Homo sapiens: one gene and its partners. The protein of the gene in region 2 interacts with the protein of the main gene of each other region in a pairwise test. Each region holds a gene or a part of one and is shown on either strand. Other genes may lie near its edges. The genes, in order: SIGLEC5, SLC7A8, SLC25A46 and SLC33A2.

Region 1 (5,847 bases), on a different chromosome or scaffold from region 2:
ATCCTTTTCCCTGCCTTTGCCCATAAGCATAATACCTGTGTATATATTTTTAAGCAAGAATAATTGCTTTAAACATTCACACAAATGGAACAATGTGGTAATGTGTATTTTGTATGGCCAAATAGGACTGCACTAGCTTTCCTTTTATTAATGTCGGCATAATATACTTTCACTTTTGGCCTTCTCTATCCTTGTACTTTACGTGTATATGTTGTAAAGATCATATACTTGGAATCCATCCAAGTGGACTCTGTTTTAAACTGAAGCATTTATCCAATTATATTTAACATAAATATCCCATGTTATATTTTGTTTTCTGTATGTGTCACCAATTCTACATTACTTTATTTCTCCGTTTTGTTTGTTTGTTTTGTTTACTAAGTAATTTTGTTGTTGTTTGGCTTTTTGTTTGTTTTTTGAGACAAGGTCTCACTCTATCACTCGGCTTACTGCAGTCTCCACCTTCCGGGCTCAGGTGATCCTCCTGTCTCGGCCTCCCAAGTAGCTGGGACTACAGGCATATGCTACCATGCCTGGCTAAATTTTTTGTACTTTTTTGTAGAGGTGTGTTTTGCCATGTTGCCTAGGCTATTCTTGAACTCCTGGGCTCAAGTGATTCTCCACCCCTCGGCCTCTCGAAGTGCTAGGATTACAGGTGTGAGCCACTGCGCCTGGCTGGTTTACTAAGTTTTTAATAGTATACCTTTAGTGATCACTAGGTTGAAAGTTATATATTATGATTCTGTTCTTTTAGCCGTCATGAGAAAAATTTACAGCATGCCTTATTAACCTATCAAAGTCTTTAGTAAATGAAAACCTCTCTCTCCTCCTGGATAATATATGGATATTGGGACATGTAAAATACACTTACCTTGGTACTTAACTATTGTGATTGTCAGGAATTCTAAACTATCTTTTGTTTTTATTAAAGCTCCCCCATTTACTTGCTCTGAAAGATCATTATTGCTTTCTCATTTTTGAGTTGACTTTACTGAGTATAGATTGCAAATTGATGTTAGAAATAGTATTTGCCTTCTTCTACTCTCCAGGTTGCTACTGATAATTCAGTTGTCAATTAAATGACTTTTCTTTTGAAGGTGATCCTTTTTCTCTGGTAGCTGTTCAGATTTTTTTCCTTGTCTTCAGTTTTGATTCAGCCTTACCTTGACACAAACCCAATGTAGGGATGGTCTCTTTTGACATTTGCAACCTTTCGCTGGGCCACAGACTTAACCTTCATTTCCAGAGCCACATGCAAGACCAAAGAACCAAAGCTTCCTTTTTCAATATGAGCAAATGCCCCTGGGAATTTTGGCTTAGTGATTCTGCTTACTTCTCTGGGTTCAGCCTTTCCCCAGAATTTTGGCCTAAGTTTCCATTTTCTTTTCAGGCATTCTATACTATTTAAGGGAAGGATTCTTTTTCTACTCATTTTTTCCCCAAAAGATTTTATTATTTTCAACACAAGGCTTGATCAAAATTATCTAACCTGTCATAACCAAAACAGTAGTCACAATTCACCTTCTTTACAGTGATGAAAATGAAGTTTGGGTGGTAGATATTGAGAATCAATGTCCTCCCAGTACTCCACTGGAATTATCCACTCATTTCCTCATGACCACTTGCTGAAGTTTCTAACATTGTCATTTATCTGGGTTTGGAGATACCCTAGATAAGTAACTGGAGAATTTTTAGCTGCTTTTGGTTTAGCATTTTAAAAAATAAATTAGTTCAATTTTAGAGGAGGGAGAGTATAAGTTCTTTCTTCAGTCCACTCTTCCAACTCAAGACCACCCATTAACTCATGTTTGGAGGAAAAGATAGTGTAAGCCAGATGAAAGCAAGGAGGCATGGCTTCCAGGAGGAGGAATCTCAAATTGCAAAGACAGTGTGGTATGAACCAGCATGAAAGGCTTAAGGAAGGGTTAGGCAAGAGGAAAGTATAAATGAATAGATAGCAGGGAGATCATGAAGGACTTTATGTGTCAGGGGAGATGCTTGTGATATATTGTCTAAGGCCAGGGGGCCGTGAATGGGTTTGGGCAGGAAAGAGTTAGACTCAACTCTTTGGCTGTTGGAAGGATTCCTATGGGTCTCATAAATGAAGGACTGGAGCCAAAGGAATATGATGCAAGGATTGCAGGTAAAAGTGGGCAAAGATATGACTCTGGCAAGGATATAAGATCCCACATCATGAACCAAGTGCCAGGCTGAGGGGCTGGTCTTTCCTAGGGAGTCTTCGAAGAGTTTTGGGAAGGGGAGTGACACCAACATATTGCTGCCCTGTTTTTTGTGCCTGGTCATCCCCAGCCTTGAGAGAACTTGCCAGCAGGACCTTTCTATTCAAGGAAGAGAGACCAGAAAGCACTGAGCACAACGCCCTGTTCCAGGACCCATGTTGGTTGATTTCCATGTGTTGATTTCTTTAATGTTCACAACAACCTTTGAGGTAGCATGCATGATCTCTGATTTACAGAATGGGAAACTGAGGCACAGAGGGATGCAGTGAATTGCTTGATGACAGTGCCAGGGCCTAGATTTGAGCCCACCTCTCTAATTCCATCTGCTTGGAGCACTTAAACATCAGTTAATGTTAACATTGCCACAAGGGCTCTTCGTGCTTCAGCAAGTGGTCCCTGACTTGTCCTTTCCCCCAGACAGGCTGTGGCTCCTCCAGCCAGGACTGAACTCTGGGCAAATCCTCACTTGCTTGTCTTGATCTCCGAGTACTCCGTGGTGCTTGGGGCCTCCTGGTCCTTAGGCTCCCTCGACTTCATCTCAGAAAAACTAAGGGAGGCATAATGGAGCTCCTTTTGTTCTTCCAAGGGAGGGGCATCCCCAGGAGGAGATGCTTGATCTCCGGGGCTGTCTGGCCAGGGCTTCTTCCTGGAACCCTGAGTAAAGGGGAAGGAAAGGTGTCACAGTAGGAATAAAGAGGCAGGTGTAGAATAATGAGTTCTTATATTTATATGTTGCCTTGGGATTTATTTTGAATGTAAGTTGGACTTTCTCATGCCAGAAGCAGGGCTTAGTCACCTGGACACAATTTCCAATTCTCTACCTCCTCCCAGTTCCCCAAGGTGGTTAATCCAAATGTCTGCCTTATACAACCATCTCCTTGTGACCAGCTCCCTATGGGACATACAGCTACAACCTACTTGACTTACGTATTGACTCCTGTGTCCCTCATAGGCTGCGCAGATATACTGCAGCAACCACCTCTCAGTCACAGTGTGGCTCCACAGAACTCCTGCCTGCTAGCTCTAAACCCCCAGTTAGAACTCCCTGTGGGAAGCCTGCTTAGATTATGCCCTGGACTCTAATTAAGGCTTTGGCTCATGGGTTCTTCTCTCTCTCTCTCTCTCTCTTGCCCCCTACCCACTGGATGAGCACTTGCGTCCTGGTCAGTTCCCTCCTTTCCATTCGCCCTTCCAGGCTTGCTGTGCTATCTTCTCTCTGGGACCTGTGAGTAATAAACTGCTTCTGTTATTTCATGTGTTTTGTTGTGCTGTCTCCTCTGTGTCCCACCCGCCCAACAGACCTGAACCTCACTTCTTTTCTGGTCAAGGCTCTCCTAGAGAATAGCTGTCTTGGTGGGAATAAACCGGACACAGGTCATAGGAAAGCTGCAAGGGAATCTGCCAGGATAAACAAGTTTGCTGTGAGAGGGGGTCACAGGCTGGGCACTCAGGCAGCAGGTGGTGTGCCAGGATAAAGGAGTATTCTGTGAAAGTCACACTGTGAACATGATGGCCAGATCTCTGGGGTTCCCATTCAAGGCCGGGCTAGATTTTATGACCACTCCCCAAAGAGAGACCTCAACACCAAATAAGAGAAAAATACAACAAATGGTTCCCACAGGGAAGTTGGGCTGATGTGACATTTATCAATTCATCCTTTTATAATCCACTCCTCCTAAGGACAGGCCATAGGCTGCCTAGGTCAGGGTCTATGTCTGATTTCTCACACTGTACGTGCCCAGGAACCGGCACAGGGCAGACAGGGCTGGGTTCAAATCCCGGCCCCACCTGTCCATATACATTTCCTGTGAACTCAACTATTCGCTCATTCTTTCAAAATTTTGTAATACTATGATTGATCAGACCATATTGAGGACTTACTAATCACATTGAATCATCACCAAAAAAAAACCCACAACAGTATAAAAGATATTCTAATTATCCCCACCTTACACACAGGGAAACTGAGGTGGAGAGAGGTTAAGTAGCTTGCCCAGGGTTATTCATCTAATACATGGCGAGGCCAGGATTCGAACTCAGCCCTGTCTCCCCTGTTTCAGGTTCTGGGCACGTACAGTGTGAGAAATCAGACATAGACCCTGACCTAGGCAGGAGGAGCGGATTATTGATGAAGCAAATGTATACCTTCGGCATAGGTTACAAGGTGTCTTATGTGCAAACCAGAAAAGAGATGGCAATTCTGATCCTGGACCCAGTTTCCATGAAAGAGAAACAAAATGGAGCAGATCCTGTCCCCAGCAAAGATGGTAACCAGATACAAGTAAGCAATTTCTTTCCTCTCCCACCTTCACCCATATCCCTACCCATCACGCTATGGAAAATATGTTGAAAGCAACGTGAGTCTTCAAACAGTAGCTCAGAAGTTTTCTTTTTGAGACAGAGTTTCACTCTGTCATCCAGGCTGGAGGGCAGTGGTGTGATTTCGTCTCACTGCAACCTCCCGTCCCTGGCTCAAGCAATCCTCCCACCTCAGCTTCCTGAGTAGCTGAGACCACAGGCACAAGCCACCATGCCCAGCTAATTTTTGTAAAGACAGGGTTTCGCCACGTTACCCAGGTTGGTCTCAAACTCCTGGGCTAAGCGACTGGCCCAGCTTAGCCTTCCAGAGTGGTGGGATTACAGGTGTGAGCCACCACACCTGGCCATACAGTTTTTTTAAAAGGACTCCGCAGTTAGGGAAAAATGGCTTCATTGTGTCAGAAAAAAATAGACTTTCTGGAGAGAGCTGCTTATATTAGGCACAAGAAAGATGAAATAAAATGAAAAAGTGGCTATGCACACCAGCATTATGCAGGCAAAGGAAGAAATAAAGACATATGTCTATCAATAGGTGTGCGGTATATGAAATAAAAAGGGTGAAATTGACAACTGAAAGAAAAGGCACAGCTCAGATTAGTAAATAGGACAATGCAGTATGTTCACCCTTTCACTCAATAGCTCTTTGCTGAGTGCTTTCTTTGGGCTAGATGCCGTTCGTATAAATGAGGACATAAAGCAGACTGAAACCACCCAAATACCTCCCCGTCATGCAGTTCCTTGTTAGACAGAAGGAAAAGTAATACTGGGTAACAGTTATAAGTGAGCTCCCTGTGAGCTTGCCACTTTACTAAGCACTCCTTGTAACAATCCGAGACAGATACTAGCATATTAATAACCCAATTTCTATAGGAGAAAACAAAAAAACAGAGAGGTTCATTAGCTTATCCAAGGTCACACAGCTTGCAAGTGGGTGAATCTAGAACCTGAATGCAGGACGTCAAACTCCAGGGACCATGCTGTGCCTCGCTTTACCATTCTGCCTATGGCATGAAAGTGTGCAGAATGGTTAAAGGTAAAATAAAGGAGAAAACAAAGCTCTCTCTACCATAGTTCTTGTCAAAAGAGTGAATTCATACACCGGCTCTGTTCTCCAAGACCTACCAATGATGGAACTAAAGATGGAGCTCCTGGGTGAACAAAACTTTACAAATCAATTTATGATCAATCAATCACACTGATATCCCTAGGGGAAAGTTAAGGCTCATTTGAAGAAAAGGGGTGGGAGAACTGGGCGGGGGGACAGCTGGCTTGTTGAGAGGATGGGTTA
Region 2 (9,771 bases):
GAGACGAGGTTTCCCCATGTTGGCCAGGCTGGTCTCAAACTCCTGACCTCAGGTGATTCACCCACCTCAGCCTCCCAAAGAGCTGGGATTACAGGCATGAGCCACTGTGCCTAGCCCATAACATTTCATCTTATGCCAAATTCATTTTATCGACCTCTTACTTTTAGGCACTTACGATATTTCCAATTTTTTCTTTCTCTTTTTTTTTTTTTTTTTTTTTGAGACAGGTTCTTGCTCTGTTGCCTAGGGTGGAGTGCAATGGCACAATCACAGCTCACTGCAGCCTCAGCCTCCCAGGCTCATGTGATCCTGTCACCTCAGCCTCCCGAGTAATTAGAACAACAGGCACATGCCACCACACCTGGCTAATTTTATTTTTATTTTTTGTAGAGACAAGGGTCCACTATTTTGCCCAGACTGGCCTCAAACTTCCGGGCTCAAATGATTCTCCCGCCTCAGCCTGCCAAAGTGCTGGGATTGCAGGTGTTACCCACCGTGCCCAGACAGGATATAATTTTTTTAAACTCAATCCCACAAGACAGGATATAAATTTTTAAGTACAATTTACATACAATAAAATATGCAGGCTGGGCGTGGTGGCTCATGCCTGTCATCCCAACGCTTTGGGAGCCCGAGGTGGGAGGATCATTAGAGCCCAGTTCGAGACCAGCCTGGGCAACATGGCAAGACCCTGCCTCAATTTTTTTTTTAAAAAGCAGATCATAGGCTGGGCATAGTGGCTCATGCCTGTAATCCCAGTACTTTGGGAGGCCGAGGCGGGCAGATCACCTGAGGTCGGGAGTTCGAGACCAGCCTGACCAACATGGAGAAACCCCGTCTCCACCAAAAATACAAAAATTAGCTGGGTGTGGTGGCGCATGCCTGTAATCCCAGCTACTCGGGAGGCTGAGGCAGAAGAATCGCTTGAACCTGGGAGGCGGAGGTTGCGGTGAACCAAGATCGTGCTATTGCACTCCAGCCTGGGCAACAAGAGTGAAACTCCGTCTCAAAAAAAAAAAAAAAGCAGATCATAAATGTTCATTTTGATGAGTTTTGTGGGGGTTTTTTTGTTTGTGTTTGTTCATTTTTGTTTTTTATTGTTGTTTTTTAGAGGCAGAGTCTCACTATGTTGCCTAGGCTGGCTTTGAACTTCTGGGCTCAAGCAATCTTCCTGCTTCAGCCTCCCAAGTAGCTAGAAATATAGGTGTGTGCCACTGTGCCTGGCTTCCATTTGATGAATTTTGACAGTTGTCAAAATTCAACCACTACCCAAAACAAGATAGAGAACATTTCCACCACCAATTCCCTACTCCCACAAAGACAACTAACTACTCTCTGACTAGGACAAGAGTGTTTTTAGGCCAGGCGCGGTGGCTCACGCCTGTAGTCCCAGCACTTTGGGAGGCCGAGGCAAGTGGATCACGAGGTCAGCAGTTCAAGACCAGCCTGGCCAAGATGGTGAAACCCCGTCTCTACTGAAAATACAAAAATTAGCTGGGCATGGTGGCACACACCTGTAATCCCACCTTCTCGGGAGGCTGAGGCAGAGAATTGCTTAAACCTGGGAGGCGGAGGTTGCAGTGAGCCGAGATTGCAGCACTGCACTCCAGCCTGGGCGACAGAGTCAGACTCCATCTCAAAAAAAAAAAAAAAAAAAAAAATAGAGTGTTTTTAAAGCTTTCCATATGCAGTTCAGTCCCAGTGTATTAGGGAATCTGCATCCTTTGAGGATGTGAGGAATGCTTTTAAAGAGATGAAGATTTTAGGCAACAGACAGAGGCTGCTCCTGCAGCCTTCCAGGCATTGGGAACACCCCACTGAGTGACAGTACAATTATCAGTAACCCTGAGCCACCCATACCACATTCAGGGTCTAACATACCCAGGGTTCATCCACTTTTCCACTGGCTGCCTCTGGTTTGCTTGCACCTGCATTTGTGAACACAGGTTCTGTGACTGGTGGGGTGGAAAGTATGCATGTGAAGGCGGGTGCCTGGTTGGAGTGGGGATGCCCCTGTGTGGGCAGAAGGTAGGCAAGGATGAAGGAGCTGGGGCTTGGTGGTCCCTGGGTTATCCCAGGCTGACCTGCTTTTCTCCCTGACAGGCTGTTCTTCGCTGGAGCCCGAGAGGGCCACCTTCCCAGTGTGTTGGCCATGATCCACGTGAAGCGCTGCACCCCAATCCCAGCCCTGCTCTTCACAGTAAGGGCCCTTCCTGCTGTAACTCTCCACACACCTCCCTCTCTTTGTGCCTAGTCTAAGCTGGGAGTTCATGCTTTTCACACACACCCCTGTTACCCTTGCAGTCTGCTGCTAGGTCTCACTGGATCTTAGAGGATCTGGCAAATGATACCCATCATCTTTGTTAATATCAAGAGATATAGCAAGGAAAGATCCTGAGTCTTGAAATACCTAAGGCTCTCAGGCTGACTTATTTCCGTTCTCCCATCCTTTTGGGTCAGACTGAACTGACTGTCTCAGGATTCTACAGCCTCAAAAAAAATATATCTCCCTTGGCTCTCCTCGCACCTGTTACCACAGGGTTGCAGCACTGGCCTCTGCTCCTGGCTGGTTGGTCCCTGCAAACACCCACTTCCCCCATCAAGCTTCAGGGCAGCCTGCCAGTCTCTTGGGAAACATCATTGAAATGAAGTTAGTGTTAACAGTACACCAAATACGAAAAATAATAGAGGAAGACTGATAAACTGGAAACTGTGCAAAGGAAACTTGGGACAGGAAAGAGATGGGAGTAAAATATCCCCAGAGTAGAATCATTTTGAGAGAGCTATAGGAAGGAACAAAGACTTGTCCCCATTGAGTCTTTTGAGTTATTTTTATTTTCCTTCTGGATCCTGAATAAAACACTAAAAATGACTTTGGTCCACTGGTGAAGCAGTTAGCAATCAGAATAACAGAGCTCTTGGGAGCCAAGAGCATTTTACAGCATTGCTGTACAATTTCAGAATGTTCAGATGCAGGATGAAGGTCACCTTGACTGGTTGGTTGTCGAAGGTGGCTGGAGAAGACAGTACTCCCAGTGGGCCACACACATTTTTTTGTTTTGTTTTGTTTTGTTTTTTCCAGTTAGAGCTATTGGTGCAGTAGTGTGACTAAAAGGCAGATGTAGCAAGAACCATTAAAATCTTCTCGATTATTTTAACCATCGGATCTCACAAGAGAACAGAACCTTTTGTTGACCTTCACAAGTTATCAGAGGGGAGGAGCATGGTTCCAAGAGAGCCACAGAGATGATTTTGAAGTTGGAAAGTAGACTCTGTCAAGAAAACCTCATAGGGATGTTATGAGGGTTAAGTGAGTTAATCTTTGTCAAATGCTAAACATAGAGACCTGGCACACAGTAAGTGCTATGTAACCAGTTTTGAAATTAATAAAGAAAAGGAAGGAAGAAAAATAGATGACTCAGCCAGGAGAAAAGGATGAGGGCAGGAATACAGCCTTAATCTGTTGTTAACAATCTTCCCTAAGGGATTTTAAAAAAATGAATTTAGCTTGAGCTATAACCAACAGAGGCATACAAATGAGACCGGGGCTGACACAGAGCCAGGTAATACCAGTGTGGCCAGTCTAGCTGCTTATGTCCAGTATCCATTCTAATTGGCTAGTGCCCGTGCCATACGAGTGGTTAAATATTTTGATCATCACCCCTGTAATAAGAAAGGATTTCCTAGCAATAAAGATGTTGTAACATATTGGGTTACTAGGGGAGGTTCTAAAGTCTCCATTTCGAGACATCCATTATACGATGGCATCATCTGCCTGGAGGCTGGGGGACAGCCCCTAATCTGTAATACCAGTCTCTGAATATCTTTCGGATCACTGATGAGCTCCTCCCACTTTCCCAGTGCATCTCCACCCTGCTGATGCTGGTCACCAGCGACATGTACACACTCATCAACTATGTGGGCTTCATCAACTACCTCTTCTATGGGGTCACGGTTGCTGGACAGATAGTCCTTCGCTGGAAGAAGCCTGATATCCCCCGCCCCATCAAGGTGAGAGAAACTCCCTTTGGGGTCCCCTCCCCTTCCTCTATGGTTCTAGCTGCAGTTCAGATTTTTAAATCACCTCTGTTCTTAGCTGCTGACCACACGTCATCATCTCTGATGGTAGCAGACCCTTTGGAAAGCAAGGGCCATTTGTGAATGGGACCACTATTTCCATTCTCCACTGGGGATGAGATCGGAGCAGACTGCAGCTGGGGAATAAGTCAGATCAAATGTGACTTTCATCATGACATTCCTTTGTTTCCTACCAGTCTAAGCCTTAAACTCCAGCTGACTTTTCAAGGTTCTCTTATCTCCCCAACACTTCCTCCTTGTCCCTCCAGATAGCTGGGTTCACTATGTGCTATGTCTCCATCCCAGAATGACTTCCTCCTCCCATCTGCCCATCTACATTTTAACCATTTTCCAAATGCGCCTCAAGTACCTCCTCTTTCTTGAAGTCTTCCAGTCTACTGCAACCTCCCATGATCCTCCCTTTATAAACTCCCACAGTCCTACACATATAGGGTGCTCAGTGAACCTAATATTGCTACAAGATATAACTCTGTGATAGGAATTAAAGGGATTGCTCAGAACAGGACATGCTAGAGCATTATGAGTTCTCCTACGAATTAGAAGAATAGAGTGTACTCCAGAGCTATTTGAACAATCCTATTCTAGAAACAGTGACTAGATGCTTCTAGAAGATCCTTCCAGCTGAAAAATCAAAGGCTCTCCAAATCTCTCAGTTCCTCACTGGCATTTCCACCGCCATTTTCTACTCTCACACTTAGAAAATCTGCTAGAGGGAAGAGGAGGTAGAATAACCCCATGTCCCCACCACACACATCCCTTCTGAGCGAGGAAGACAAGGAAGAGAAAGGCAGCCGAATCAGGACTGCCCCTGGAGCCCTGAAGAGGATACTCTCAGGAACTCCCCACATGTGGCCCATAAGGAGCTGACATTTGCCATATTGTGCCCACATAAGGGCCCTGCACAGAAGTGGGCAAGGACCAGGGAGCCTGAGTGACTCGAATCGTCTCCTGCCTGCACCTTGTGCATTGCCACACCTCCCCTCCACCCTAGGACCTCAGCAGACACACCCATGTGCCAGCAAGCTTCTCCATCCCTGTGGGCTTCTCTGGCTGCCACGGGCACATGGCATGCATGATGAGGCCTTGTCTAACCACACCCAAGAGCGAGGACATGGGCAAGGAGGATCGTTTCCTCCCTAACTCCTCCCCATCCTCTTCCTGTCTGACCGACCATGTTCATCAACATTTGTTTATATAGCCCCTGCCCTACCAGGGGTGAGTGTGGGACCACAGAGCCGAGGGAAGCCCAGCCTTTGCCCTTGAGGATGTGTCTCTGTGGGTGAAGAAGAGAGAGAATGCCCCAGTCCCTAGTCCTGGGGGCCACGTGGCCTACACAGTTCATACGCCTCATGCCTCTGCTCCACAGATCAACCTGCTGTTCCCCATCATCTACTTGCTGTTCTGGGCCTTCCTGCTGGTCTTCAGCCTGTGGTCAGAGCCGGTGGTGTGTGGCATTGGCCTGGCCATCATGCTGACAGGAGTGCCTGTCTATTTCCTGGGTGTTTACTGGCAACACAAGCCCAAGTGTTTCAGTGACTTCATTGGTGAGTTGTTGGAGGCTCTGGCTGGCTTCAGGGCCTCCTGGGCTGGAATGCAGTGGTCAGTGATGGGGTTGGGGAGCCACCAGGGCCAGGAGATCTAGGCTCACCTTCTCCTCAGTCCACAGAGCCCTGGAAGAGTCCAGAGCAGGGGAAGCAGATGCCTTTTCCCAGAGACCTCTGAGGGTAGAGAACAGCTGGCATTTCCACACAGACCTTAGACCCGCAAGAATAGGCAACCTGGGCTGGGCACAGTGGCTCACGCCTGTAATCCCAGCACTTTGGGAGGCTGAGACAGAGGATCACTTGAGCCCAGGAGGTTGAGACCAGCCTGGTCGACATAGCAAGACTCCATCTCTGTTATTAAAAATTTTAAAATAAAATAGGCAACCTGTCAGCCATTCTGTGAGAGCTGCCCGAGGCTGGGTGGAGACCAGAGGAGACCCTGGACTTAGGGGTCAGTGGGCACAGGGAAGGTGGGAAGGCTGGGGCCTTCATAAGCAAAGAGTAGCCGGCGGGAGATGCAGGAGGCAGACCAGGTGGCGAGGATTCTCTTCAACGCACTGACTGCTCTGAAGAGGCAGAACCTGGAGCAGGAGAGCCAGGAAGGGCCGGGGCCACTTGGCCAGGTTGGTGGGATACTCAGCATTGGCCTGGTTTCTGTGTGATCTCTTCCTACAGAGCTGCTAACCCTGGTGAGCCAGAAGATGTGTGTGGTCGTGTACCCCGAGGTGGAGCGGGGCTCAGGGACAGAGGAGGCTAATGAGGACATGGAGGAGCAGCAGCAGCCCATGTACCAACCCACTCCCACGAAGGACAAGGACGTGGCGGGGCAGCCCCAGCCCTGAGGACCACCATTCCCTGGCTACTCTCTCCTTCCTCCCCCTTTTATCCTACCTCCCTGCCTTGGTCCTGCCAACACATGCGAGTACACACACACCCCTCTCTCTGCTTTTGTCAGGCAGTGGTAGGACTTTGGTGTGGGTGGTGAGAAATTGTAAACAAAAACTGACATTCATACCCAAAGAACCAGCCTCTCACCCCAGGGTCCATGTCCCAGGCCCCACTCCAGTGCTGCCCACACTCCCAGCTGCTGGAGGAGAGGGGAGATGCCAAGGTGCCCTGCAGGACCTCCCTCCGGGCCACACCCTCAGCTGCCTCTTCAGGAACCGGAGCTCATTACTGCCTTCCCTCCCAGGGAGGCCCCTTCAGAGAGGAGAGGCCACAGGAGCTGCATTGTGGGGGGACAGGCTCAAGCAATTCTGTCCCCATCAAGGGGTCAGCTGGAGAGACCCAAGACCCTATCTGTTCACCAGGGACCCAAAATCCAAGGGGATGCTTCCCTCTGCCCTCTTTCCTGCCCCTCCCCATCATACCTGCACCCACCCCAGCCAGGGCTCCCTGTCCAGAATTCGGTTCTCCTCAGGACGCCAACTCCCAGAGCTAAGGACCAAGGAGAAGAACAGCCTCTCCACCCCCAAGCCAGGCGGTTGAGGAACATATTGAGAAAGGTTCAGATTGCAGAAACCCAGCCCTGCCCCTGCCTCCTGCATCCAGCCCCCAACATGGTGCCAAAGCTTCCAGAAGCCAAAAAGCTTCTGATTTTTAAGGTAGTGGGCATCTCTCTCCTAATGACGAAGCTGCTCAGCAACTCCACCTGCCCGCCGCAGGAAGGAGCAGTCCCCTGCTATCCCTGCAGCCACTCCCAGCACACCCGCACACAGCCAGCACCACCGCCCCCACCGTGCACTTCTCCTCTCTGGGCCTTGGCTTGGGACCAGGTACGAAGGATCCCCAAGCCCTTCAGGCCTGAGATCAGAGCCAGATCAGCCTTAAGTCACCTCCCATCCAAGAACTTGGCCTAAAAATACTCCCCTATTTCTAACCCTCAGGACGGATCTGATATTAAATGCCTTCCCTGGGAGGAAGGGTGCTTTCCCCCTCCCTAGAGGTGCCCATTCCATACCCTGGGAGACTGAGGAGAGCATTGGCTGAAGCCCAGTTCCTTTCCCATCCATCCCCAACTCCAATAATCCCCCACTCCTCGCAGGTCTCAGTGTCATGCTGTCTTGGGGCAGGGTGAAAGGGTAGTGGCAGCAGGGCGCCCACTCTGGAGATCCTCAAAAAAGGCCCTCCTCTGTGGCTGGCAGCCTCTGACCTTTCCCTGGGCTTCAAAGGAAGGCTATGGAGTTTGCTGTGGGCCCTGCAACCTTCCCAGCCACTCCTGCTGCACTAAGGACTTAGGATCCTTTTATCACAAATCGGGATTCTCTCCCCCACCCCGAATTCTGTCTGCTTAAACTGGAATACACAGGAGCCCTTCCTGGCCTGGATGGTGTCTCCCAGCTTCCCCGCCCAGCTTGCCCACCCCATAGTTGGTGAGATGCCAAGTTTGGTCTGAGTTGTGACCCCTTCAGAGTAGATGCCCGGCAGGCTGGGGTTGGCCCCTGGAGGGTCAGGGGACCATCTTCTTATTCCCTCTTTTCTCATTCCTCCAACTTCCTCCCCTCCTTCAATTATTTTTTTGTAAAGTTGATGCCTTACTTTTTGGATAAATATTTTTGAAGCTGGTATTTCTATTTCTTTTGGATTTTTTTTAATGTAAGGTTGTTTTGGGGGATGGAGTTAGAACCTTAATGATAATTTCTTTCGTTTGGTGTAGGTTTTAGAGATTTGTTTTGTGGAGAGGTTTTTTTCTTTTGATGTAATAAAATTTAAAATGGAAATGAAGTTGGTGGTGTTGGTAATTAAGTAACCTTTTGAGACAGAGTCACCAGGCATTTCCTCTTAGGAGATCTTGCCAGGTTCCTTCCAGAATGACATTCCTAAAAGCTCTCGCTCTCTGTAACTTCTAGCTATCCTAGGGACTCAATGCCAGTGCATTCAAACCACTGACTCTCATTCTGAACCAAAAACATCAAAAGACAAAAGTACAACGAATTTACAGATCTCAATTGTTTACTGTAATTCTGGAATCAGGCAACACTTCATTCCATAAAATAGAATACATATTCCAATGAGTTGAGCAGAAGAGGTTGGCTTTACAGACAGGGAGGGCTGAAGAAAGCTGGTTAGTCACTTTTCGAAGTTGCTTTTCTTGGCCGGGCACAGCGGCTCACTCCCGTAATCCCAGCACTTCGGGAGGCCGAGGAGGGAGGATCTCTTGAGCCCAGGAGTTTGAGACCAGCCTGGGCAACATAGCAAGACCTCGTCTCTACAAAAGATAAAATTAGCTGGGCATGGTGGTATGTGCCTGTGGTCCCAGCTCCTTGGGAGGCCGAGGCCGAAAGGAGGATGGGTTGAGCCTGGGAGGTCGAGGCTGCAGTGAGCTATGCTTGCGCTACTGCCCTCCAGCCTGGGCGGAAGAGCAAGCCCCTGTCTCAAAAACAAAAACAAATTTACTTTTCTTGTAAGGTGGGGACAGGGAGACGGAACAATAGAAAAATAACTGATTAGTTCATATCAGGATCCTTCAGGCTGCCTTGTTTTGTGTAAAGATTAAAGCAGAGGGAACTTCATTATCATGTCCATTGAATATTGAAACTGGCCTGTTTTAATTGGCTGTTATGTCTCTCTCCTGATTTCTAGGAAGGTCAGATAACAACTTAGTTTAGATTTGGTGATGTGGAACTTTAGCATGGGTGATTCTATTTTGATTTTTAGCCTGGTCTGTGGGGCCTAGGGCAGGAGCTTAGTCCAAAACCATGGCCTTCTGTAATTTTTTATTTAACAACACTGTCTCACTCCTTCTTGGAGTCATGAAGTGTTATTAAGTTCCTGCTCTGTGCACCGTACTGAAAGCCTGCAGACTAACTGGGAAGAAGTCAACATTGCCCAGGGTGGGACATGGGCAAGGGAGAGATGGCATCCAGCCAAGTTGAGGGAGGCAAAGGCAGATGTCCTCCCAAAGCCTGATCAGCAAAGGCTTCTCTCATCAGCACAGCCTGAGCCGAGTCTGTGGAGAGAGTCAGGGTCTGAGGAGCTTGATGGGAGGGCCTGGGAGGTAAGGCTAGGTTCACTCAGCTGGACAGAGCCATCTGAGAAGAAGAGTTAGCTCTAGGAGGAAGAGTAGGAGGACCACTGGACTAGGACAGGGGAAAAAGGAAAAAGTCGTTAAGGTATGTATAAGTACTTC
Region 3 (5,556 bases), on a different chromosome or scaffold from region 2:
GTGCCTCTTGTCTAGTATATAGTCACCACTAAATAATGGCTTCCGTTTTTATTTTCTTTCAGGTTTTGCTTTAAATTTTGTTTTCCAAAATAGATGTACGTGGAGGGAAAAGCAATTATTCTTATCACCTTTTATTTAAACTTCTTTAGATGAATACTGAAGAAAAATCCAAACCTTAAAGGAAATGTGCCCTTGTATTTTATGGGTGAGGGGAAAAAGTACATTTGTACATTTCAACATATAATAAGCAAAAAAATTACTAATCAGTTTAATAAAAACATTTTGTCTATTCCTAAATGTAATTTGGTGGGTTAAGCACTTTGTGTAGTAAAATGATATGTGTCTGCTCTATCATTAGACATTTTAAAGTTTCATGTCTTCACGTGAATAATCACAGTTGTATCATGAACCATTTAGCGCTCTGAAGCACAGTGACTTTGCACTGATATTGTCCAACCAAGAATGCATACGAATAGAAATTCATTTTACTTGCTAAATGTCACAGAAATGGTTACTTTTTGCAAATAGTAGTGTTGGAACAAAAAAGTGATATCCAAAAAGTGTAAAAACAGTAATAAGTAGCAAATCTCTCGTGTGTGTGTGTGTGTAGTTACTGAAACACCTACATTTTCCATTTTTAAATTCCACCAAAAGGGGGAAAATAAAATTAAACACCACTGATCACATTTTATATTTTATGGTGACTATTTTAGATTAAGGTTTACTTTGTCCAACCAATAGCATTTAAATTGTTTTCAATTAGGATAGTTTCAGATAAGAGTAAACCAGAAAATTTCAAGTTTGAAAAATTTCTAGAAAAGAATCTGAATAGAATCAAGTATTTACTAGTGAAAATCTGTAGGATCCTTTGTTTAGCTAAAAATTAAATATTTCAGGATATTTTTTGGAAGTTAGCATGAAAATAGTTAGTTACATAAATTCATTTTATTGTAGAATAATTATAAGACTGATAGGCTGAACCATACACAAATAAGGTTGATCTTGTTTTCCTTTTTGGAGAAAGAGAATACAAATTAACATTAAAATTGAAATGTAGAAAGTAAAATATGAATAATTTTTTACAACCACTCCAAATTAGTTGAAACAAAATCTTGAACGGTCACGCACTTAAATTTAAGCTAGCCAAATATGTTGCACTGAATTTTGAAAAGAATGAGTGAGATAACTGTAAGATACGCTCGTTCCCTTTTAAAAATTGTTATTTTTCTTTAACATGGGTGCCAAATCAAATATCCATGGGCTATACTTCTTAAGATAATAACAGCTCAAAATAATATTTTTTAATTCAGTAGAACTAATAGCATTATGGAAAAGATTCTATTAAATGTTCCACAGGCCCACTGGTCCTCTTATATAAGCCAAATTTTGGCCATGGAGCTTGTGATACACTTGCCTTACATTGTAGGGTTTCTTAATTTGAGTCAAGTACACTGAAAGCAATTAAAAACTGGTAAATATTAATTTACTATGTAAAGTGAACTTACGAATTAACTTACTAAATACATATATGTAGACCTTCCCGAAATGCCATTCTCAATTTTATTTTATGGGCTCCAAAAAAAATTATCTGGGTTAATAAGGTTATCTATTAAAGCCCCCAGAATCTCAGCACTAGATGTCATAAATATGAAATAGTAAAAACAAGGTCACTTGAAAATGGGTATTTAATACCTTAGCTGGTGTTTTCAGAAGCATACAGAACTGGAAAGGTAAGAACTTGCTTACTATTGCAGATATACCTGACCACTCACAACTGTCTTTTTAGCAGCAGCTTTGTTAAAACTGCACAAAGCATTCACTTTATTGATTGAGTACAAATGCTTTAGTGTTTCTACCTAAGTATTAGTACATCTGTTCAGGAAATGGAAAAAAAAAATGCTGCTTAAATTTGTTTTATCAGCTGAGGTTGTGGAGGATTTTTGTCCACTGATCTTTTGCAACAGAAAAGCATACTTTGTCAGCTTCTAATAAGATAGCCAGGTTTGAATTATTTGCAAAATTTATATAAGCAAATAAGATCTCTTGGTAACAATTGACATTGCACTAGAATTTGAATGATACTGTTGTTGGCATTTCTGTTTCTCTTTCAAGTAGTTGTAAATAATCTCTTTTTCTCATATAAACGGAATGCATAATGTCTTACTCTTGAGTCATTTAGTATCATTGATATGGTACCAAGTTGTATAGCAGAGTAACAAAATCATGATTTGACAATGAAATTTACATATTGCCTCACCTAGAGATGTTTTGTCTGTATGACTTTTTTTTTTTTAAGTTTGTCTTACTGTTACTTTAAATGTTTTGGGTAAATTGTGTAATATGAAAAGTTCAATAAAATGTCGAAATAAAGCCACTGTTTTTCTCCTACTGATGTGAGAGAACTATTCAGGCTGGTGGTTAAAGATGAAGTATATTTTTTTAGGTAGAAAGGAAGATCAACAAAATATGTGAAGTTAAACTTTTTTGCACACTATTTTTTAAAATCTCTATAGCCTCCTCACCACATCCCTATGACATTTTTGGAGTTGTGCTGTTTGATTAAGAATAAAATAGATACAGAGAGGAGGTGATTTGTCCTGCATTTCACAACTAGGAGAGTAACAACAGAAAAATGACAAATAGGCAGCTCCAGACTCCCATCCCTCCATGGAAAGAGAAGAAAACAACCAGAAACTGTCAGAACCAACTTTGTCAGACTCTGGAAAACAGTCAAAAGTTTACAGCAACTATGTGAATGTTAAATCAAGAAAAAGGCAACTTATTGTTAGGAAAGCTTTGTGGCTTTGACTTACCTTGGCTCCTGTCTTCTCTGTGGTTCAGTGGCATGGCAGTCTTAAAAATGGCAGCTTGGGTGCCCAGTGTGGGACCTGACCCTTGGTTCTAGAAGGAATAGAACAGACATAACTTGCTGGAAGGGAGTAAAACGATGTATTTATAATGCTGGAAATAAGTAATTTCTTTAAAAGGTTAAATAATGTTATATCTAGCAAAACTACCCTTCAAGAATGAAGGCGAAATTAAGACATTCCCGGATAAACAAAACCTAATGAAGTTTGTTATTAGTAGAACTTTCTTACGAGAAATAAAGGGAGTACATCAGGCTGCAAAGAAAAGACAATAGATAGTAACTTGAAGTCATATAAAGAAATAACACAGGTAAATGTAATTTTATAGGTAAGTATAAAAGCCAGTATTACTGTACTTTTAGTTTGTAACTCCACTCTTTCCTGTATAATTAAAAAGGCAAGTGCATAAAAGTGAATCTATTTTAATGGTCACACAATATATAAAAATATATCTATGACAAGAACAATATAAAGTGAGAGAGATGGAGATGTATAGGAGCAGAGTGTTTGTATACTACTGAAATTAAGTTGATATTCAACTTGTTGTTACATGTTTAAGATGTTGTAGCCCTTGAGATAAACACCAAGAAAATGACTTTAAAAACATACAGAAAAGGGAAGAAGGAAAACAAAATGGTATACTATTAGGAAGGCTGAGGCATGAGAATCACTTGAACCCAGGAGGCAGAGGTTGCAGTCAGCCAAGATTGCACTCCATTGCACTCCAGCCTGGACAACAAGAGCAAAACTATCTCAAAAAAACAAAACAAAACAAAACAAAAGCTCTACTACCAAACAAATCAGTTAATACCAAAAAAGACAGTGATATAGGAATTGAGAAGTAAAAAGCATAAAGATAGAAAACAAATAGCTAAATGGCAGAAGTCTATCATCTGCAGTTACTTTAAATGTAAATAAAAGGCGAGTGGCAAAATTGATTTTTTTAAATGACATATCTGTACTATGTCTACAAGAGACTTATTTTAGATATAAAGACACAGAGTTTGAAAGAAAAAGAAAAGCATTTTCCGTGTAAATTACGAAAAGAAGGGTGGCTGTATTATCAAAGACAATAGATTTTAAGTCAAAGTGGTTAACGAGACAAGGACATCCAACAGAAGGGCTAGGGGCACCATGTTCTCACTAACTGATGAATTGCTTCTTAGCTTAATTTCTACTGGAGCCAACAATGGAAGGCTTCTGAGAGCTTTTGGTAGGTCTTTCCACAGTCCTCTGCATTCCTTTCCCTTCTCCAAGTTGGTAACAACCTGTCTCAATTCTTTGTAATATAGGGACCTTGTAGTTTGTGAGCATCACTCAAGCTCTCTAAATTTTACACTAGAGATCATGTTTTCTCTCCCACTTCCACTATACAATACATAGACATAGAAAAATAAATTACATGGACATAATAAATGTGGAATACATGAATGAACCATAAAATTGTGCACTCATTCTTGTCTACGTATTTTCAAACTTGTTCCCTTTTAGCTAAGGATTTCAACACTTTCAAGTGTCAAGTGACCTTTAGAAGTCATCTCCCATTAAACCTCTCATTTCATAAATGTGTAAACTGAATCCTAAATATGTTTGGTGATTTTACTAAGGTCACAGAATAACAGAGCTGCTACTGCAACCCAGTTCTTCCCACTCCCAGACTAGTCTTTTTCCCCATTACATCACCCTGCCTTTTCTCTTTTATTTACCACTGAGTCTCTCCTTTCTATCTATACATATCTATACATAGAAACACCTGAAACTCTGAACTCTGTGATACTTAATAAACTCTATTTCAAAAAACAAACAAAAAACTATTTATACTTTCCTTATCTCACTTGTTTTCTGTTTTCATTCCATCTTTTGTCTTCCTCACTGGCTTCAGTTTTTAATTGTCCTTAGCATTTTCCAAACTCTGTTATAAGTCTTTATTATTTTGTATCTAGAACATGTCTTCCCACTATGTACTACTTCAATTGGCTCCCCAATATTTATCTTCAGTCTTGATCTCACCTCTAAGCTCCAGACCCATATCCCTATTTCATTTGCATTGGTACTGTGTTCCCCACTGCTGCCTCAAATTCAATGTATTAAAAGCTAAATTTATTATTTTTCTCATAAACTGGTTCTTCCTTTCCCACAGTGTTATAATTTTCCAGTCATATACAATCAAAATTTGAAATCATCTTCAGTTTCTCCCCAGATCTTTCATAGTCAATTATCTAAGTCCTATTATAAAAGAAGACCATGCCTTCGGAGCCTGGAAAACCTGGCTTCGAATTCTAGTTACATGCCACACTAATGAGAGCTCTGATACTCAGTTTTCTCATCTATAAAATGAGGATAAAGCCTTCTTCACTGAAGGTTACATGAGAGTGTCTTTTAAAAACCTGCAATACTGAAAATGTTCACCTTTCCAATCTCCTTTCTACCATAAGTTGTTATTATCTCACGTGTAATAGGTCTTCCCTACAGCCTTACCTTTTAATGATTCTACACTACAATAATATTATTCTTTTTAATTATCTTTTCGTTAACATTGCTTCCCTGCTCAGTTACTTTCAGTGACCACCCAATGCCCATAAAATAGTTGTTAAGTTCGTAATATCCCTCCAGGTTCTTATGCCTTCCTCAAGTCTTGCTGTCTCTTCCCAGCCTTTCTCTGACTACTCTCACTGCTGCCCTACATAAG
Region 4 (10,442 bases), on a different chromosome or scaffold from region 2:
GCAGGGCTGTGGCCCGCATCTTCCACGGCATCGGTGAGGCCTGGGAGGCCCCACCCGCTGCAGGCTGGGGCTGGGGGCTGGGGCAGGTGAGGCCTGGGAGGCTCCACCCGCTGCAGGCTGGGGCTGGGGCTCACGGCTGTGTCTTGGCTCCACCGTAGGAAGCCCCTGCTACCCGGCCCAGGTGTACGGGCAGGACCGACGCTTCTGGAGAAAATACCTGCACCTGAGCTTCCATGCCCTGGTGGGCCTGGCCACGGAAGAGCTCCTGCAGGTGGCCCGCTGACTGCACTGCATTGGGGGATGTCGGGTAGAGCTGGGGTTGTCAGAGGCTAGGGCAGTGACTGAGGACCTGGGCAAAACCTGCCACAGGGTGTGGGAACGAGGAGGCTCCAAAATGCAGAATAAAAAATGCTCACTTTGTTTTTATGGGCCCTCTTGGCCAATGAGGCAACCCCCACAAGCTGGGGACAAGCACATCACATATTCCAGGCACAGAGACATCTGGGCCACAGGCACATGTGGCTTTATTGACCACTCCAGCCACTCAGCTCAGAGAAAGGTGCTGGGTGCTAGGTCCAGGTACAGAACGGGAAAGGCAGAGAGGATGAGCAGGAGCAAGAAGCAGGGATGTGGCCCCAACCCATCAGCCAGGCCTCCGGCCAGAGTGCCCAGCAGCAGCTTCCCCAGCAGCTCCAGCGTGGCCAGAAGGCTGTAGTGTGTGGCCTGAGGGGGGTGGGGGTCACGGTCAAGGTCAGGCCCACACAGCCCCAGCCCCGTGGTCTCTCTTGTGTCCCTGCTACATCTACTCACCTGCAGGGCCCTGGGGGCCAGCTGGCTGCAGCGCATCATCCCAGTGAAGGTGACTGTGGTGACCAGGCCTCCCAAGAAGTGCTGCAGACATAGGCTCAGCAAGGCTGACCCTGGGAGGGCAGAAGTCAGCAGTGCCCCAGGCTCCTGGCCCCTCTCTTCCTCCTCAAGGCCAGCCCCTCACCTCTCAAGATTGTGCCAGCGTCCATGCTGGCCCCCAGGGTGTCCAGGTGGAAGACCAAGGCAGTCTGACAGGCTAGGCCCCCGAGGCGGAAGCGCAGCACCGACCTCAACAGAGGCAGCAGTTTCCTGGGATGGGGGTGGGAAATGGGTCAGTATAGTGGATTGGGGGCAGCTCAGGTACAAGTGGGTGGGCAGGGTACACTGGGGAGGGCTCACCAGTGCTTGGCCAGCAAGGTCCCACCCAGGGAGGAGCCAGCGATGGAGCAGACCACAGCACCCACACCATTCCACAGTCCCAACTCGGGAGCAGAAACGCCGTGGTCCAGCAGGAGAAGAGGAAACAGGCTGCTGGCACCCTGCTCACCTTGGGTGGTGGGGGGGGCATGAGCACGGGAGGTTCCATATCTGCCCCCACCTCCCTTCTCCCCACCTGGGCCCTCAGTCCTGCCCTGCTCTCCTCAGTGTTCCAGAGCTGCAGATACTGGGGGAGAAGTGGGGCAGCCCGAGAGAGCGCTCAGGGATGGGGCTAGAGCTGGGGGCGGACAAGACACAAGGCCCAGCTGCAGAGCCCCGGATGTCAGGGCCAAGTCTTGCAGGTCATACCCCAGAAAGAGCGTGGCCCTGTAATGGGTTGCAAGCCCCTGGGGACACACCTGGAGCTGTCCCGGAAGCCCCAACTGCTGTTGCCTGGCTCGAGGCCTCACTCACCCAGCTTGTAGGTGAGCACAAAGCCTGCCGTCCACACGGTCCCCGGCACGGCTAGCACGTCCCGCAGAAGGTGCGCGGTGTGGGGACGCTGCTCGGAAGGGGGCTGCTGTGGGAGCCGCCGCAGGGCTGGTGCAGCCCAGGCCAGGGCCGCGGCCAGCCAGTAGGTGGCAGCCAGGAGCAGAAAGAGTTGCGGCCACGAGAAGGTGGGCAGCAGCGCCAGCAGCGCGCCCCCAGCTAGCGCGGCCCCCAGCTTGTACGCGACCACCTGCACGGTATTGCCCGGCCCCAGTTCGGCCGGCTCCAGCAGCTGCACAGCCAGCGCGTCCAGGGCCACATCCTGCATGGCGGCACCCAGGTTCAACAACAGCAGCAACCCCGCCACAGCGGCGGGCAGCCCGGCCTGGCCAGCTCCAGGAGGGGGCAGCCCGGCAAGCAGCCCACACACCAGGCCCAGGCCCGCCGTGCTGCGCGTCACCCAGGCCCTCGCCGAGCCCTGCGCGTCCACCAGCGGGGCCCAAGCCAGCTTGAGCAGCCACGGAGCGTACAGAACCTTGGCCAGCCCCACGCGCGTCAGCGAGAGGCCGCCGGCACGCAGCAGCACTGGCAGGAGGCCGGACTGGAGCCCGTAGGGCAGGCCCTGCACCAGGTAGAGGCCGGCCAGCGGCAGCAACTTCCCGCGCATGGCGGCTCAGGCCGGCTGCGAGGCTGGGAGGTCGGGTTCCAGGTGGGGTCCCGCAAGGCGAGGTCCCCTCCGCGTGGGGTCAGAGGCCACACCCCGGCATGGCTTTGGTTCTGGGACCGGGCAGAGTCAGCGTCGTACAGGCTAGGGTCTGGACACGTGCTCTCGGGCTTTAGGAGCATCAACACCCCAGAAGAACCGAAGTCGGGTCCAAACGGGGGCGAGCGGTCCGGACACCGGCGGCCGGCGGCTCCCGGCATGCTCTGCGCGGCCGCAGGGAAGGGGGCGGGGCCACTGCCTCCCGGGGCTCCCACCATGCTCTGCGATACCGCAGGTGAGGGGAGCGGGGCCACTGCCTCCCGCGGCTCCCAGCATGCTCTGCGAGGCCGCAGGTAAAGAGGGCGGGGCCGCTGCCTCCCGGGGCCCTCGGCCCGCGCCCAGCACTGCCGGCCGGGCCGGACTCTCAGCAGTTTCTCGGCCCCCTGGAGCCACAGAGCGGAGCACGGACCACACGGCGTCGCTGGAGCCCCGCGGCCACCGGCTCCAGGGCCGGAAGGTCGCGCGGGCCACAGAGACCGCAACGGGCCAGAGCGTCAGCTCGCGGGCGCCCCCGGTGGCCAGTCCGGGCTCGGGCCCGCGGCCCCCCGCCCCGCCACGTGCGCGCTCCCACCGAGGTCCTGCGCGGGTGAGAGGCCCAGAGGGGGAAGCTACAGAGCTGGGCCGGCCTCGAATGTAAGGATCGGCCTGCGCCCACGGCCAGCCCTGGCCCCTCTCAGTAGTTTCGGATCCGCTCCAGGCGTGCTTCCTTCCTGGTGTCAGCCGAAGCGTGGTTGCTGCAGTGCCCAGCCCCCGCTTCTCCAGCCGCCCGCATGAAGGCGTCCGTTTCTTAAGGGTTCCGCCGTCTACCACTGGATACTTCCGGTGCGGACCCCAACCTTGCTGTGTCTGTGGCTTCAGCTCCTCCGTAAGGCGGTGACAGAGCCATGGAAGTTAGGAGGGAAGTGTGAAAGGTCAGGACCCAGCTTAGCTCAGAAGGACACCGCCAGCCACTGCCCGTGACGCCCTTCGGTGTCCGGTGACAAGGCTAGGAGCACCCTGCCTGATTCGAGCCCGCCCTGCCAAGGGAGGGGCCCACCTGCTGTGTCTCCTGCCCAGAGCTGTGCCCTCTGGGGCTCCCGAGGGCCAGATGAGGCTGTGAAGTGTGTGTGGCCTGTGGTTAAGAACCATCTCCAGAGCGAAAAAAACCAGGTGCCCTTGGCCAGTCCTATCTCCCAAGTTTGTGAGTCTCTAAAGCCAGCCCTGTCCTTGGCGGACTTGAGGGCACTGGACCCAACGCATTTTTCTGGCTGCCGAGGCCTCTGAGGGGGTTTCTTGTCAGCTCAGCAGGTTTTTGGGTTGCAGGTTTCCACGTCTATCAAATGGGGACTATCATGCCTACTTCAGAAGAGCATCTGTGCAGATTGAGTGACCCCCCAGCAGTGTCTGCATGTAGTAGGTGCTCAGCCATGCTCCCCAGGCCAGGACACAGCGCTGCCCACTCCCGCTCAGCCCAGCCCCTGCCTCCTCCAGCCCCAGCCCTCCCCTGGGACGCTCCCTTATCCTCTCCCTCTGCCTCCCACTCCACCCAGCCGAAGGACTGCACCACACAATGACACCAAAGGTGGTCTCTGGCCCCCCAGACAGTGGCCCCACCCCTGCTTCCTTGGGTAAGAGAACCAAGACTTCCTTCCTGAGCTGTCAGTCACCCTGACCAGCCAGCACCATGCTGGTTTAGTATTTCCCCCTGCCCCAGGGAAGACATGGACCTCACAGGAAAGGGAGCCAGGAAGGAGGCAGTTCACTGTGCCTTCCTCAGGAAAGGCTGTGTTTCTTCGGGTGGCCACCTGGGCCCCTGGCTCCCTAGATTCTTGGGGGCTTCCACAAAGGGGTGTGGGGCCTGCGCTTTCCTCACACTCTGGACCCTCTCAACCCATTTCTGTGTGATCTGACGGGCTCTGCCCCACAACCAGAGGCCAGAGGGAAGACCCAGCCTATGGTGGGCACGGGGTCTTCAGGAGGAAGAGGTGGGTGGTGGCCGTGGAAGGTCCCTTCTCTGAAGGGACTCAGGCCTGCAAGAAGGGTAGGCAGGTGGGAGCGGGCCACGCAGCTGCCAACGCTTCCTCCCTGGAGTCAGACTGCCACACAGCTTTATTAGGGACCTGCAGAGAGGCAGGGGCCCAGCACCCCCCCCACCCCACCCCGCCAGGCATCAAGAGCAAGTACAGTGGGCTCCAGAGCCTCCCAGGGCTCCTGAGCACACAGTCCAGGGCGACCCAGCCTGGCCCCAGCTGGGGTGCTCAGGAGTACTCGAGGGTGAACTTGGCATGGAACCTGCTCAGCTTCTCCAGCAGCAGCCGCAGTTTCTCCAAGGGGGGCAGAATGGTCATCCTGAAAGGAGTTGACAGTGAGTGAAGGGCCAGGGTGGCGGGACAGGGAGTGAGGGCCAGGCCTCACCGGAAGTGGTAGGTGCCTTCCCGCTGCCCAAAGCCGCTCCCTGGCACCACGCAGATGCCGGTCTCCTCCAGGAGGCGCAGGCAGAAGAACATATCGGGGGCCAGGCCCAGCTCCTGTGGACGGAGAGCCGTCAGAGAGGGATGCCCGGCCCCCCCTGCCCACCCCGCAGGCCCCGCCCCCGCCTGACCTGAGCGCGCTCCACCGCCCGCGGGGGCAGCTGCACGCGCGGGAAGGAGTACATGGCGCCCTGCACTGGGTTGCAGCTGATGCCAGGAGCCTCATTGAAGACCTGCTCGGTGAGCTTGGCCTTGGCCGCCAGCTCTGCCAGCACTGCCTGCTTCTCCTGTGGCCGCGGAGGGAGGGCCCATCAGGGCACGGCACTCGGCATCCCCCACCCCTGATTAGGTCACCTGGACCCCCTCCTGCCCCCAACTCACAGCCTGGAACTGCGCAAAGGAGGGGTCGGTGGGCGCGGGCGGGCTGACCACCAGGTCCAGCAGGGCCTGTCCTGGCACCGGCGGGCACAGCCGCACACTCATCAGCTTCAGCATCTGCTGCTGCACTGCAGCGTCCATGTTCACCACCTCCACATAGCCGCCGCGGAACCCGCACCTGCGCACGGCCAGGTCAGGTGCGGAGGAGGGGGTGGCCCATCGGGCGAGGAGGGCCTGGCCATGGCCCGCGAGCCCCCACCCGCCTCGTACGCACGCACTCGCCCATGTAGCCCTTGGAGGTGGAGTGGAAGGAGGCAAGCTCCTGCTGCCCGGCGTAGGGCGGCCCCATCTCCATGAGCACCTTCTTGAATGAGTGGAACTGCGAACCCGCGGCGTACACGTTGTCCTGGTACACCTGGAAGGGCGCAAGGCGTCACGGGGGCGGACTGTTGCCCGGCTTCCCGCTCCCCCGCGCCGCGCACCTCGTCCGCCAGCAGAAAGAGCCGCTCTTCGAAGGCGAAGCGGATCACGGCCTCGATGCACTCGCGGGTCTGCACCTGCCCTGGGGTGCCGGGGAGGCAGCAGTGCTGGGTGAGCCAAGGGGGCGCACTGCCCTCCGCTGGGCAGCCGGGGTCCAGCGGACCCGGCACTGCCTGGGCCAGGGCGCACGTGGGTGCGGGAGGAGTGGGGCGGGGCGGCGGGGAACGCACCGTGGGCGCGGAGGGAGTGGGGCGGGGCGGCGGGGAACGCACCGTGGGCGCGGGGGGAGTGGGGCGGGGCGGCGGGGAACGCACCGTGGGCGCGGGGGGAGTGGGGCGGGGCGGCGGGGAACGCACCGTGGGCGCGGGGGGAGTGGGGCGGGGCGGCGGGGAACGCAACGTGGGCGCGGGGGGAGTGGGGCGGGGCGGCGGGGAACGCACCGGTGGGGTTGCCAGGGTTGATGACACAGAGCGCACGAGGGCGGCAGTGGTCACGCGCCTGGCCCAGTGCACGGTGAAGCTCGGCCACGTCCAGCGCCCAGGCACGCTCCTCGTCCAGGTAGTAATCCACCTGCACTGCGCCCAGCTCTGCCAGCGTGGCCGAGTAGAGTGGGTACTGGGGGATGGGGATGAGCACACCCGTGCGTGTGTGGCCCTCGCCGGCCACCAGCAGCTTCAGCACCGTCTGCGGAAAGGAAGGGGAAGGCAGGGTTGGCGAGGCCTGGGGCCGCACCTGTCCCCCACCCTGGGCGCCCCCTCTGCAGTGTCAGGAATGTCTTGGTGCCCATGCCCAGCCTACCACGATGGCATCGCTGGCCCCTGTGGACAGGAAGACGTTGTTGGGGTCCGCAGGGATGCCTCCGTCACGCCTCTCAATGTACCGCGCCACGTCCTCCCGGATCAGCTGGATGCCGGAGCTGACGCTGTAGGCCCCTGGACTCGGGCAGGACAGGATGGGAAGTACAGGTGAAGTTCTCCTCAGCCCTCCCAAGGGACTTCCCTCCTCCAGTGGCAGGGCGGCCCTCTGCTTCCTCCTGGCCCTGGCTCTCACCCAGACTGTGGCCCCCACACGCCTGCAAGATGCGCTCCGCCCTTTTCTTGGCATCGTCAGGGAAGTTGGGGCTGCTCAGAAGATCAGGGTTAACACAGAGGGCCAAGACCTGGGAAGACGGAGTGCTGAGGCCAGGGCACATGGGCTGGGGGTGGGGGGGTGCTCCGGGCAGTGCAGGAGCCTCACCTGGCGCAGGAAGGTGATGGGCCTCTGCCCCATAGCCTGTGCGTCCCCGATGTTGGCACGGATGACCTCGGTGAAAGGCTTCTTCACACCCTGGGAGGGGAGGGGAGCAGGCAGGGAGACTGTGCCCTACCTAACCCCTCAGCCCTTGTCCCATGTGCCAGTGGGGCTGGGGCCAACTCGGCCACCCCATTGTGACCTGGAGGGCAGCGAGGGGCCCTGGGCCATACCTGGCGCAGCTCCTGCTCCAGCTCCAAGGCTCGCTGCACTATGGGGCCACGCACTGCGTACTCCACTCTCCGCACACGCGGGTTCATGCCGTCCAGCGTCAGCACCTTCGCCCTCAGTCCATGCCTCACCGCCTGGCTCCGGTCACCTGTGCTCGAGGCCATGACTCTACCCAGACCAGGCGGGAAGGCAGCTCAGGAGGTGGCAGGACCAGAAGTGGGAATGGCGACAGCTGGGTCTGGCTTAGTGGGCCAGGGCTGGGAGGGGGCAGCCGTAGCAGAGGGAACTCCAGGCAAGAGAGCACCCTCTTCACCGCAGCTGGCCTCACTGGGAGGGACAGAAAGGGCTGAAGGAGCTGGGGACAGTTGGGCCCCGCCCCACCCGTCTGGGAACAGCTCTGCCCCAGGGAGGCAGAGGCAGTGGGTGAGGTGGCAGGCGGGGCTTGGGGCAAGGCCCAGTGCCTGCCTAGTGTCCCCACGAAGGGAGAGCAGGAGACCCACATGGGGGGTAGGTACAGACGTCAGTCCGGACAGCTCTGAGGGACTAGACATGGGGGGAGGGGGAGAGGGCTGAGCACCTGGGGTGCTCAGGAGGTGAAGGGGTGCCCAGCAGCCCTGAGGGGCTGGCAGAGCTGGCAAGGAGGGACCCCCGAGGCGAGACTGGAGCCTGGGCTGCTGGGATTTACCCCAGCAGGGCTTGGCCGAGGCCTGGCCCTCGTGGCACCCGCATCTTTGCTTGGGCCAGCGGACCTGTCTCCTATTAACTGAGCCAGGCCTCAGGAATCCAGGGGGTGCTGGGGGGAGGGGAGGGGTGTTCAGGCTCTGGGTTCCATCTGGACCCTCCAGAGCTGGCAGCTATGGCCCAGAGGCTGCAAGAGCTCTGTAGCTGGACCTTGGTCCCTGATGAGCACTGCGAGGGGCTGGGGGAGGGGGCTGGAGCCAGGCAGTCCAGCCCTGAGCCCTGGGACAGCTCACACCGTGGCTGCTGTCATGCCCTTTCACCAGGCACCAGCTGGGGGTTGCCCTTGGGACACACCCGAGGCTAGGGGTGACCTGAGCTCTCCAGCCCTCTTGTTCCCGATTGGAGGAGAGAGTAGGAAACGAGCTGGGATAGGCCGTCAGAGCCCCACCTCCACAGGCCTGCTGAGCTGAAAGGCCAGGCTCCACGCTGGCCCACCCCAGCGTCGGGCACCGAAACCTGAACCATGGGGGTCAGGGAGCCGGCCCTCTGAGCAGGGCTGTGGGCAACCAGCCAGGCCCAAGTCGGACCTTGGCTCCTCTGATCCTGCTGGCTGGGAGAAAAGCCATCGGGAGCCCTGGACAGCCGGCCCCCAGGCCTCTCACCGTGCACGTCTCTGTTCCGCTGCCACAACAGCCTCCCCGTGCGCAGGCCTGCCCCTCTGGCCCCCAGGCCGGGGCACAGGTTAACATGGGCCTGGCCCCAGGCAGAGCCAGCCCCTGCCCGCCCCCTGGCAAGGGAGTCCAAGTGGCAGCCCTGGTGGCAGGTGGACCTTGGGCAGCTGCCCCACCCCCCACACTAAATTTAACCAGCAGCCAGCCCTGGCCCGCCCACAGCCCTGTGAGGACACCCTTCCAACCAGGGATGCTAGGGGAAGGGCAGGCCCAAAGGACACTGGGCTGACGGGCCCGTGCTGAGCCAGGAGGGAGAACAGCCCAAACCCACACCACCCAGCACTGGTGGCCACACAAAGCCGCCCACCATGAACAGACGAACCAGCGGTGCCCTCAGCCCTCCTGCTTGAGGCCCCTAAGGGGCCCCCTCACCCTGACACATTGTGCCAAGCCAGCTCAGAGCCAGAGTGGCCAACTGCGTGTCCCCTATGCCAGCCCAGGCGGAAGCTGGCAGCCAGGCCCCAGGATTAAGGCTGCGTGCCAGGAACTGGGGACCCACAACCCCCCCAGGGAGCTTCTGACACAGCCTTGTGCTTGTTTTGCCCCTCTGGCTCTGACACAAGAGTCTTGTGGAAAACACCACCTCCCTTTCCAAGCCATGGTCCCTGGGACCCCCACCTTCCGCCCCTCAGCACAGACACCCTAGGCCCTGGCCCCCATGGAGGCTCCTTCAAAGCACCTGGCTCCTCTCAGGAGAGCAAAGGGTTACGGAGGAGGCTCCAGGAGGCTGAGCATGGGAGGGAGTGGGTGAGGCCCAGGCTTCCAGCCCAGTGGCTGTGAGCCTCACTCCCACACAGCCAGGGCTGCCACATGCCCCAGCGCGCACCTACAGGCTTTCATGCTCACAGGCACGGGTGGCACCCCAGCCAAACAGCACAACCCACTCCCCACTGTGGGACAGCGACCCAGCTGAGACACACAACACACAACGAGGCTCCATGGCAAAACAGCCCTTTATCAAGAGTTGCAGGATAAAAATAGTCTTTGCAGCCAGACATCCCTCCAGGCATGTCTTCTGACCTGAGAGGGGCCAGTGTCCTGTACAGTAGAAGCCGGGGTTTCCGTGCTGCACCCGCAGCACCAGGGCACGCACCGTGGGGAGGCAGCCTTGGGCTGTGCCCGCGACAGGGCCCCTGCATGCTGAGCAACAGCCTCACATGAGCAGGCAGCACGGCCTCCTCTCCACGGGAGCCTCCACCGCCGGGGCTGTGAGCTTGAGCAGGGGTGGGTCCCCGCCTGCCCTGAAGCCACAGTCAGGCTGGGGGGTCACCGTGTCACCAGGCAGGCCAGGCTCAGCTGTCTCAGGGCTCTCGGGCCCCTCAGGTGGGGGTCGCTGCAGCTTGGCAGCAGCTCGCTGGCGCTTCAGGTCAGCCAGGGTGTGGTGGGCCTTGTCGTGGACCAGGGTGTGGGGGGTGGTGCTGTCCAGGGGGCTCAGCTGGTAGGAGACACTCCGGTCTAGTCGCTTGGAGTATAGATGCCGCACTGGGGAGCCCCCTACTCGGCCATTGTGCGGCCTGACCACTTCGGGGTTGTCCTCCTGCGGGCAGTGAAGGTCCCAGAGCCATCAGGAGGCTCCTCCCCCCTCCCTGGCCTTGGGTTCAGGCTGTATGGTCATGAAGGGACAGACAGGAGAGATGGGGCAAAAGCTGGCCCCTGCAGGGCACCATTCCTGACACAGGCAGGAGGGGGTCCAAGCGGAGAGAGAACCAGGGCAGAGCCAGGCCCACCCCTGCGCTGGGCGGAGCAGGGACGGGGCGCTCACCTCCGGGGGCGGCGGCCTGAGCT

What was found.
Region 1: the proteins of SLC7A8 (region 2) and SIGLEC5 interact in binary tests that used the Homo sapiens proteins (3 or more experiments, as listed by UniProt).
Region 3: the proteins of SLC7A8 (region 2) and SLC25A46 interact in binary tests that used the Homo sapiens proteins (3 or more experiments, as listed by UniProt).
Region 4: the proteins of SLC7A8 (region 2) and SLC33A2 interact in binary tests that used the Homo sapiens proteins (3 or more experiments, as listed by UniProt).

Annotation. Positions count from the first base shown.
Region 1 is NC_000019.10:51,609,529-51,615,375, forward strand, and holds the end of SIGLEC5 (sialic acid-binding Ig-like lectin 5 isoform 1 precursor), read right to left. Parts: intron 4,522-5,847; exon of another isoform or gene 4,301-4,521; intron 3,466-4,300; exon of another isoform or gene 3,418-3,465; intron 2,895-3,417; coding exon 2,703-2,894; 3' UTR 1,432-2,702; downstream 1-1,431. UniProt on the Homo sapiens protein: Putative adhesion molecule that mediates sialic-acid dependent binding to cells. Binds equally to alpha-2,3-linked and alpha-2,6-linked sialic acid. The sialic acid recognition site may be masked by cis interactions with sialic acids on the same cell surface.
Region 2 is NC_000014.9:23,123,890-23,133,660, reverse strand, and holds the end of SLC7A8 (large neutral amino acids transporter small subunit 2), read left to right. Parts: intron 1-2,103; coding exon 2,104-2,200; intron 2,201-3,861; coding exon 3,862-4,011; intron 4,012-5,296; exon of another isoform or gene 5,297-5,464; coding exon 5,465-5,642; intron 5,643-6,317; coding exon 6,318-6,484; 3' UTR 6,485-8,366; downstream 8,367-9,771. UniProt on the Homo sapiens protein: Associates with SLC3A2 to form a functional heterodimeric complex that translocates small and large neutral amino acids with broad specificity and a stoichiometry of 1:1.
Region 3 is NC_000005.10:110,762,788-110,768,343, forward strand, and holds the end of SLC25A46 (mitochondrial outer membrane protein SLC25A46), read left to right. Parts: 3' UTR 1-2,370; downstream 2,371-5,556. UniProt on the Homo sapiens protein: Transmembrane protein of the mitochondrial outer membrane that controls mitochondrial organization.
Region 4 is NC_000008.11:144,501,272-144,511,713, reverse strand, and holds SLC33A2 (major facilitator superfamily domain-containing protein 3), read right to left. Parts: upstream 2,645-10,442; 5' UTR 2,381-2,644; coding exon 1,699-2,380; intron 1,355-1,698; coding exon 1,207-1,354; intron 1,117-1,206; coding exon 992-1,116; intron 921-991; coding exon 811-920; coding exon of another isoform or gene 724-810; coding exon 550-723; 3' UTR 501-549; downstream 1-500. Other genes in the region: RECQL4 (ATP-dependent DNA helicase Q4), read left to right, coding at 1-33, 159-283; GPT (alanine aminotransferase 1), read right to left, coding at 4,714-4,804, 4,871-4,983, 5,058-5,213, 5,308-5,482, 5,583-5,719, 5,787-5,866, 6,225-6,468, 6,583-6,716 and 3 more; PPP1R16A (protein phosphatase 1 regulatory subunit 16A), read right to left, coding at 9,811-10,194, 10,420-10,442.